3 separate regions of the Homo sapiens genome follow, and all the other regions are linked to region 3. Evidence: fine-mapped expression QTL. A gene starts in region 3. Each other region holds a variant in brackets. All regions are shown on one strand. Distances are between the middles of the regions.

Region 1 (2,653 bases), 44 kb after region 3:
CAATGTTTTTAGCACAAACATGTAACTATATGTCATCTTATATGAGCCATCTAAATAAACTAAACTCCCTTAGGGTAAGGGCCATGCTCTCTAGGTGGTGGTAGCCCCCTCCTGACATTATTCTGGGCCTAGGGCAGGTGTCAATAAGACCTCGCTCTTTCTGCCCTCTTTCCAGTTGGCCCTTCCACCTGTACAGTCCCACTTCTTCCCCTCTCCTCTGCCCACCCTCTCACGGCACCCTCTGCACAGACACAGCCACCCAGCTCACCGGGGGGATGTGCAGGGCCTCCCTGTAAAACACCTGGATGTCCCAGTAGCTGAAGAGGTTGCAGACTGAGCGAAGCAGTTGGACCAGCCAGAAGCCGGCAGCCAGGACCAGGAGGAGGACCAGCAGCGGGCTGGAGCGGATCCTGTATGGGGTTGGGCGGGCAGTGGGGGAGAAAGGTGGGCGCCTGAGAAAGAGGCAGACCAGACTTCGGGAGTGAGGAAAAACCATCATGAGGAGGGGGATCTAGCTAGACCAGCAGCTCTCAAGGTAGAGCCCGGGGCAGGGGGTGGGTGCTGAAGTGGCCTTCACAAATGTGCAAAGTCAAACTTTTTCCAAATAATACTAATGCTTTCTGATGTTTTCATTCTTGTACTCTGAGAGTACAGTGGAGTTTTCCAGAGGCTACAAGACACGTGAACATGTCACATCACACTGACAGCTGATGAAATGTGTGCTTGTACACTCTTTTTTTTTTTTTTTGAGATGGAGTCTTGCTGTGTCGCCCAGGCTGGAGTGCAGTGGCGCAATCTTGGCTCACTGCAACCTCCACCTCCCGGGTTCAAATGATTCTCCTGTCTCAGCCTCCAGGGTAGCTGGGACTACAGGCGCCCGCCACCACACCTGGCTAATTTTTGTATATTTTAGTAGAGACAGGGTTTCACCATGTTGGCCAGAATGGTTTTGATCTCCTGACCTTGTGATCCGCCCGCCTCGGCCTCCCAAAGTGCTGAGATTACAGGTGTGAGCCACCACGCCCAGC[C/T]GCACTCTTACATTTTAAAGTTGTTCTCAGCTACAATTTCCTTCTTTTTTTTTTTTCCTTTTTATTGAAACAAGGTCTCTCTCTGTTACCCAGGCTGTAGTGCAGCAGTAGAAACATAGCTCCTATCTCCCTGCCAAATAACGGCCCAGGTCTGGAACAGTTATTTGGTTGGTTGGCAAAGAGAACATTGCAATCCATGCTTCAGGGAGGAAGGTTGTGAAGGCAACAATGAAAATGAATCGTCTGCTGGGAGGGAGGAGGGTGTAGGGATGCTGCAGTGATCAGAGACAGTCACTGTCTTAGCCTCCTGACTAGGCTTAGCTAGGACTGCAGGTACGCACCACCAAGCCCAGCTAATTTTTATTTTTTATAGAGATGTGGTCTCACTTTGTTGCTCAGGCTGATCTCAAACTTCTGGCTTCAAGCAATCCTCCTGCCTCAGCCTCCCAAAGTGCTGGGATTACAGGTGTGAACCACTATGCCCGGCCTAATTTTAATTTTTTATAAGGTAAAATGTGGATAGATACGACTCCCATAAACAAAAGCTTTTCAGGATTCTCAACCAATTTTAAGTGTATTAAGATACACTTAATGCACTGTAATTAAGATACACTTAAAAGGCCGGGCACAGTGGCTCACACCTGTAATCCCAGCACTTTGGGAGGCCAAAGTGGGTGGATCACCTGAGGCCAGGAGTTCCAGACCAGCCTGGCCAACATGGTGAAACCCTGTCTCTACTAAAAATACACGTGGTGGTGCACGCCTATAATCCCAGCTACTGGGGAGGCTGAGGCAGGAGAATTGCTTGAACCTGGGAGGTGGAGGTTGCAGTGAGCCAAGACCTCACCATTGCACTCCAGCCTGAGCAACAAGAGTGAAACTCTGTCTTAAAAAAAAAAAAAGATATACTTAATACACTTTAAGTACAACTTAATACACTTAAGTACAACTTAAAGTATATTAAGTGTATTTTTGGTCCTAAGACCAAAAGCTTTGAGAACTGCTGATCTAGATGACGGGACAAAGTGGGGCTCCCGTCTACTCCTCTACCCACTGCCCATGCTTCACCCCCAGGGCCCCACCAGGTTGTCACTAACCTCTCAGCACACTGGGCTGAGGGTAGGATGGCATCTGACAGGGTCACTTTGCTGTGGAACGGCCCAGGTCTGGTATGGTTACTTGGTTGGTTGGCAAAGAGAACATTGTAATCCACGCATCGAAGGAGGAAGGTTGTGAAGGTGACAATGAAAATAAATTGTCTGCCGGGAGGAAGGGGGGGTGCCGGGATGCTGCAGTGATCAGGGACAGCCAGGTGGGCTCCTGCCCCAGCCCCCAGAGCAGCCCATGGTTATCCTCCCTGACCCTGCCCCTGCTGAGCCCTTGGGCTGCTCGGGAAAGCATGGGATGGAAGCAGCTGGCACAATTAAGGAAGCAAAATGACAGAAGGAAGCCATGGGCCCAGGGGACCGAGTTCCGGGCCCGGGCTAAGCGTCTCACCCCAGCTGGAAGACATCCTCCAGCAAGATGCAGGCAAAGCCATTCCGCTGGTGGTAGCTGTAGATGTGGCTGCGTGTCAAGGAACAAGCCTGAGGCACGGGGGGCCTCTCCTGAGGACACCTCCCCTC
Region 2 (2,653 bases), 29 kb before region 3:
AAACAGAGAATGGGCCTCAGAGAGGGGAGGAGAACAGAGAGGAGGGGGCGAGGGTGGAGGAGGGGACAGGAGCGAGCCCGAGAGAGGACTGGGCAGGAAGCCCTGGTTTGTCCCCAGTCGCTTCTTCTGCTATCTTGCACCCACTGTCAAGCCGACCAAGAACTCCCAGGACCCCCTGACTGCCCAAGCACTGGCAATGGTGCTTCAGGGGTTGGCGGATCTCTGGGACTGCGGGGCCTCAGCCCCATCGTTGGCTCCCTGGCCCTCCTTTGTTCTATGTTCTTTCCTCCTCAGTGCTCACAGAGACCCCAGCCCTGTGAAGTCCAAAAAGCCTAGGCTTGCCCTGGAGGGTGGAAGAGGGCTTCCTGGAGGAGGTGACAGCTGCAGGGGCCCTGAAAGATGGGCAGCATCTGGACAGCTGGGGTGTGGAGTGGGCACACTGGAGGAAGGGATGGGAAGGTCTGAGGCCTGGGTAAAGCAGACACGGCCCACCCCGCCTTCCAGCTCCCAGCCTCACCTTGTCCCCGCCCTCCCCCTTCCTCCCCTCCCCCGCCTCACCCTTGTCCGTGCGCCTGCGGAAGGACAACTTGCGCTTGCGTTGCCGACTGAAGCCACCCTCTAACTCCGTACTGCCGGGGGAGCCCGGGATCATGTTGGTCTGGAACCAAAATCAGTATCAGGGCCCTTTCAGTGCTCTCCTGCCCCACCGGGGTCAGGCCCCAAGCTCCCTCCTTAACACAGAAAAAGTAGGGCTGGGCGCCCCAGCTCTGGGAAAACCCTTCCCTGCCCCCAATGTGATTTTGCCCCAGGCAAAGACTGAGTTTGGGACTTTTGTAGGCTGCTCTATGATACCATTTGACAGACAGGGAAACTGAGACAGAGAAGCATCACATTCAATGTCACACAGCAAAGGGGCAGCCACACAGCTGGAAGCAGGAGGATGGGGTCCAGCTCAGGGCAGCCAACTCACATCTCGCAGGTTGAAGGTGATCTCCAGGCTGGACCAGAAGTGGTCGGAGAACTCAGGGTACATGTCCAGCACCTCCAGCAGGTCGTCCCGATGGATCTTGTGTAGGTCACAGTAGGTGAGGGCCCGCACATCCCCGTTCGACTTGCCAGGCCTTGCATACAGGTTCAGAGGCTCCCCAAAGATGTCATTCTTCCCTGGAGGCCATGGAGAGGACAGGGAGCTCAGCCCCGGGGGGCGGCATCCAGGCAGCAGGCACCTTCTCCCGGCATCCCCACCCCGGGCAGAGCATGTCCCCTCAGCTGGGTCGCCTGCCAGCCGGCCCCCAACCCACACAACCGGGGAAGCAATCTGCCAGCCCACCCTCCCTCAGCTCCCAGCAGGCACGACAGTGCCAGAGGGGCCAGGAGCCCAGGGTCTCCCAGCAAATGAGACCCAGCCAGCAGGACTACCCCAAACCCCAGGTCCCAAACACCCTCTTAGCCAATCACTGCACCCTTATAAGCAATGTTCTTCAAACCAAAGATCAGAACACAGTAGTGAATCAAAACCAGC[A/ATT]TTTTTTTTTTTTTTTTTTTTTTTTTACTGAAAGAACATACAGTAGTATAGCTTAGCACAGCACAGAACAGAAATGCTAGAATGAACCACATGCAGTAAGGCCCAGTGTTATGTAGTGAAACTTTGATTTTAGTTTTGTGGGGGTGTGTATTTGTGTTTGTACAGAGCTGAGAAACAAAGTCTAAAATGTCCTACCATCAACTATGGTCGAAAGAGCTTGCTATATCTGCCCTGAGGCACACAGGGCCGAGGGAAGGACAGGCAAAGGGGGAGGAAGTCCTCAGTGTCCAGACACACCAACCCACCCACTGTGCACAGGCAGGGTAGAAAGGAAGTGGGGGGAGGGGGCAGGACTCCCTTTGCTTTGGATGTGTCAAGGGGCCAGGCATGAGGCTGCAGGGAACCACATGGCCCTTAGTGAAACCAAATGCCGAGCTTCCAGGCTAGCATTTCTTCCTCTACTGCCCAGGCTAGAGGATCTAGATTTGATCCTACTTTAAGGAAGCAAAAAGTGTCTGTTTGTGGCGGATCCTGAAGGGAAGGAGAATGTGGGAACCCCAGAGTTCAGCAGCCTCACCCCACGTGGGGCTCCTCTCCATGGCCCCGCTTGGAGGGCCTGAGTTTAGGTGAATTAAAGGAGCCCAGTGACCCTGCAGGCAGTCCCAGGTCCACAGCCCCAGTGACTGCATATTCAGAAGGCTCGCACCTCTTGAGGCTGCAGAGGGCATTTCCAGTCCAGTGCCCGCCCCCCACCCCATACCCAGGATGGCCACGACGACGTCGCCCCGCAGGATCTCGATGGAGCCCCGGGAGATGAAGTACAGGGCGGTGAGCAGGTCCCCAGCATGCACCAGTGTGTCCCCTGGCGGTGCATGTGTGGTCTTGAACTTCATGGCCAGGGCCCGAAGGCAGCCCTTGGTGGCCCCTCGGAAGGGTTTGCAGTGCTGCAGCAGTGAGCGGTTCAGGTGCAGGCAGATGTCAGCCTGCAGGCACTCAGGGAAGCCCTTCAGCACCTGGGGGCAGGGTGGGGGCAGCTCAGCACACCCTCCCTTGGGACCCCCCAACCCACACTCTACTCCACCATCCCACCCCTCCATGTCAGAGAAATCTCAACCTCCAGGCCTGGGAGAT
Region 3 (2,653 bases):
CCAGGCAGGCATTAGGGGTGCTGTACTCCCGGTCCCCATAAGGGAATTAGGTGACAGTCTCCAGGGCAAGAAAACCCACAACTTGGGGGTACCACAGGGAGCTGCTTACCCTCAAAGCCCAGCTCTAGCCCCAGGACACCCTGTCTCCACAGAGCCCACAAGCTCGCAGCCTTGTCAAAGACACCTCCCCACCGCCCATACAGGGTCTAACTCACGGGTGACACATGGGCTCAGGGTTATATACACACGGCACACACAAGAAGAGATTATGAGCTGACCCTGCATCCACGGCTTTTCAGTCCCTCCGGCACAACACAGTCAAGATCTGGCAAGACCAGTGTGCGCGCTGGACTCTCGGGATCCCAGGGTTTGGGTCGTACACACTCTTATGCCCTTGCACACAGCCCCATCCACGTCCACGCACCCAGAGTTGGGGACACCTGCACACTCCATCCCACATCCCTTCCCTGCACACTCAGCGTGTCACACACACTCCGATCCCAAAAGCCTGAGCTGAGTTTCCCGCCCCAAGCCCCAACCCCAAACCCTTTGGCCCGGTGCCCACGGCCCCGGTGCACCAAGCCTTGCCCCCGCCGTCCCCTCGCCAAAGCCTGGGGCCCACCAGGCCCCATTGACTCGCACTTGCCGACGCACACGGCCCGGGCACGCCCCCCCATCCACACTCGGAAGAGCTCGGCCCGCCCCCAGAGCCCCCTCCCCGCTCAGCCCCCTCCCCCACTCACTCTGGCCCTCAAACTTGCGGATGATGGTGTCCAGGAAGGTGTTCTGCGGCGCGACGTGGCCCCTCCGCACCGGCATCCTGAGCCCATGGGCGGGCCGGGCGGGCCCCCACCCACCCCGGCCCGGCCCGGCCCAGCACTAGGCTTCGGGTGGCCCGGCCGGGCCGTGGTCCCCGCACCCCGCGGCCAAGCCGAGCACGGGCGCGGCCAAGACTGGACTGCGGGCGCCGGGTCCTCGCTCGGCTCCCGGCTCCCCGCTCCGGACCCCGGGCCCGGCCTGGAGCCGCCTGAGCGCGAGCCGCCCGCCGCCGGCACACCTGTCTGCCGGCCCCCGCCGAGCCGCGGGGCCCGCTCCGCCGCGTCCCCGCGCTGCGCTCCGCCCGCCCGAGCCCCGGACTCCTGGCTCCCGCCTGCCACCGCGCCGACAGCCGCTCCAGCGCCCGCGGCTCGGGCAGCGCCTGCGGCTCGGCCCGGCCGCGGAAGGGTTAATGCGGCGCGCGCCCCTCCGGCTCCGGCCCCCGCCTCCCGGCCCCCTCCCGCCTGCCGCGCGCCCGCAGCACCGCCCTCTCCCCCCCCCATCCCGCCCCACCGCGCGCGCCCGACCTTCCCATTGGCTGAGCCGCGCCGAGTGCTCCCCCAACGCCAGCCCCTCGCTCTGCCAAGGAGCCCCTGGGACTCGCGCGCCCAGAAGAGGGGGAAGGGACCCTTAGGCAGGGGAAACCGTGAGGACAGGTGCCATGGCCGGCTTGTAGGCGGCCGGGATGGGGGAAGGGATTCCACCCCCACCCCAGATTAGCGACTAAGAAACCTGATTTGAAGGGAAACGGCGGGTCCTTATGCCCTGGTTCCCCACCACGCCGAGCACTGGCTTGGTATACACAGCACGCGCTCAGTGCCTACTGTGGGTGACCGGGGCAACGCCTGGACCCTCGAAGACGAGCCCGGAGTCAAGGGAGACCCTGGAAATAGGAAAAGCAAGACAATCTGAAGGCCCCAGAGCAGCAGAGCTCTGAAATAAGGGAGGGTTAAACTTAGAAGGGGCACGCCCCCTGCCCCAACACACACACACACACACACACACACACACACACACACATACACACACACACACACACACACACACACACACACATACACACACACACACGGAGAGAGAGAGAGCCCTCTGTGGGGCTCTGCATAGGAGCTGCACAGAGAGGGACATTCTGACAGCAGTTGCGGCCTCCTAGCTGCAGGATCAAAGAGAGGTCCCTGAGCGCGAGGTTCCAACCAGGGGATCCCCGGGTGCGAGCGGCCCGCCCTCCCCCGGCAGCCCGGGGCCAGCCTTGCACGCCCAATCGGCGGGCTCGGGGCCCTGCGGCGGCGGCCACGGCCCAGCCCCTCGGAAAGCCCTGGCCTAGCCGCAGGCCCCTCCCCCCGGCCAGCTGGCTCGCTCCAGCTGCGGCTCCCTTATTTAGGCAAGGAGGCCTAGGGATGCTCAAGGGCAGGCGGGGTGTCTGCCCCGCCGCCTGCTCATCGCCTGCTTGCGTCTGAGTGAGGGTCTCCGGGCGCGGTGTCCTCGGACTTAGCAGTCAGGCAGGGCCCCGGGAAGGCCAGGGCGGGGAGGCGAGTGTTGACAGCTGAGTGGGCGGGCGGGGAGGGAGGAGTCGCAGCTGAACAGCCGAGGGTCCCCTCCCTGCAGCCGGATCAGAGACCTGTCTAGATGGATGGGGCCATGTGGGGGCTCCTGAGGGCTTGCAGCTGCCTCTGTCCTTGGAGCAGGGGCTGGGTCTTGTCACCAGCGAGAACCATCATGGGGGGAGGGGAAGAACAAAGGGCAGGGAAGGAATCGGAGTCCCGAAGGAGGAAGGCGCAGAAAACTGTCGTCGTGAGACCACCCTACCCGGACTCTCACCTTCCACCCAGGAGCACAA

Alleles and levels. Alleles are on the strand shown, and positions count from the first base shown. SD is a standard deviation of normalised expression in the study named.
As copies of T replace C in region 1, the expression in ovary of the gene that starts at base 1,227 in region 3 goes down (large effect, 1.0 SD a copy in GTEx).
As copies of A replace ATT in region 2, the expression in regulatory T cells of the gene that starts at base 1,227 in region 3 goes down (moderate effect, 0.75 SD a copy in Bossini-Castillo 2019).

The links. PIP is the estimated chance that this variant, and not a neighbour inherited with it, causes the effect.
Region 1: its variant is the best candidate, but not a certain one, in a credible set for the expression of KCNH2 in ovary (GTEx, PIP 0.56).
Region 2: its variant is the best candidate, but not a certain one, in a credible set for the expression of KCNH2 in regulatory T cells (Bossini-Castillo 2019, PIP 0.61).

What each region holds. Positions count from the first base shown.
Region 1 is chr7:151,020,920-151,023,572 of GRCh38, forward strand. ATG9B (autophagy related 9B) reads right to left here. Exons shown (of 14, transcript NM_001317056.2): 3 at 2,526-2,590; 4 at 2,126-2,287; 5 at 269-410. Among named protein-coding and RNA genes, the nearest start is that of ATG9B, 2.2 kb to the right of the region's middle. The variant C/T (reference allele first, on the strand shown) is at 1,029.
Region 2 is chr7:150,947,886-150,950,538 of GRCh38, forward strand. It overlaps KCNH2 (potassium voltage-gated channel subfamily H member 2), which reads right to left. Exons shown (of 15, transcript NM_000238.4): 9 at 2,283-2,535; 10 at 971-1,164; 11 at 559-658. Among named protein-coding and RNA genes, the nearest start is that of KCNH2, 29 kb to the right of the region's middle. RefSeq lists an enhancer at 1,000-1,740. The variant A/ATT (reference allele first, on the strand shown) is at 1,523.
Region 3 is chr7:150,977,095-150,979,747 of GRCh38, forward strand. It overlaps KCNH2 (potassium voltage-gated channel subfamily H member 2), which reads right to left and starts at 1,227. Exons shown (of 15, transcript NM_000238.4): 1 at 744-1,227. The coding sequence starts at 819. LOC124901776 (a long non-coding RNA gene) reads left to right here. Exons shown (of 3, transcript XR_007060592.1): 3 at 1-261. RefSeq lists a silencer at 1,895-2,244.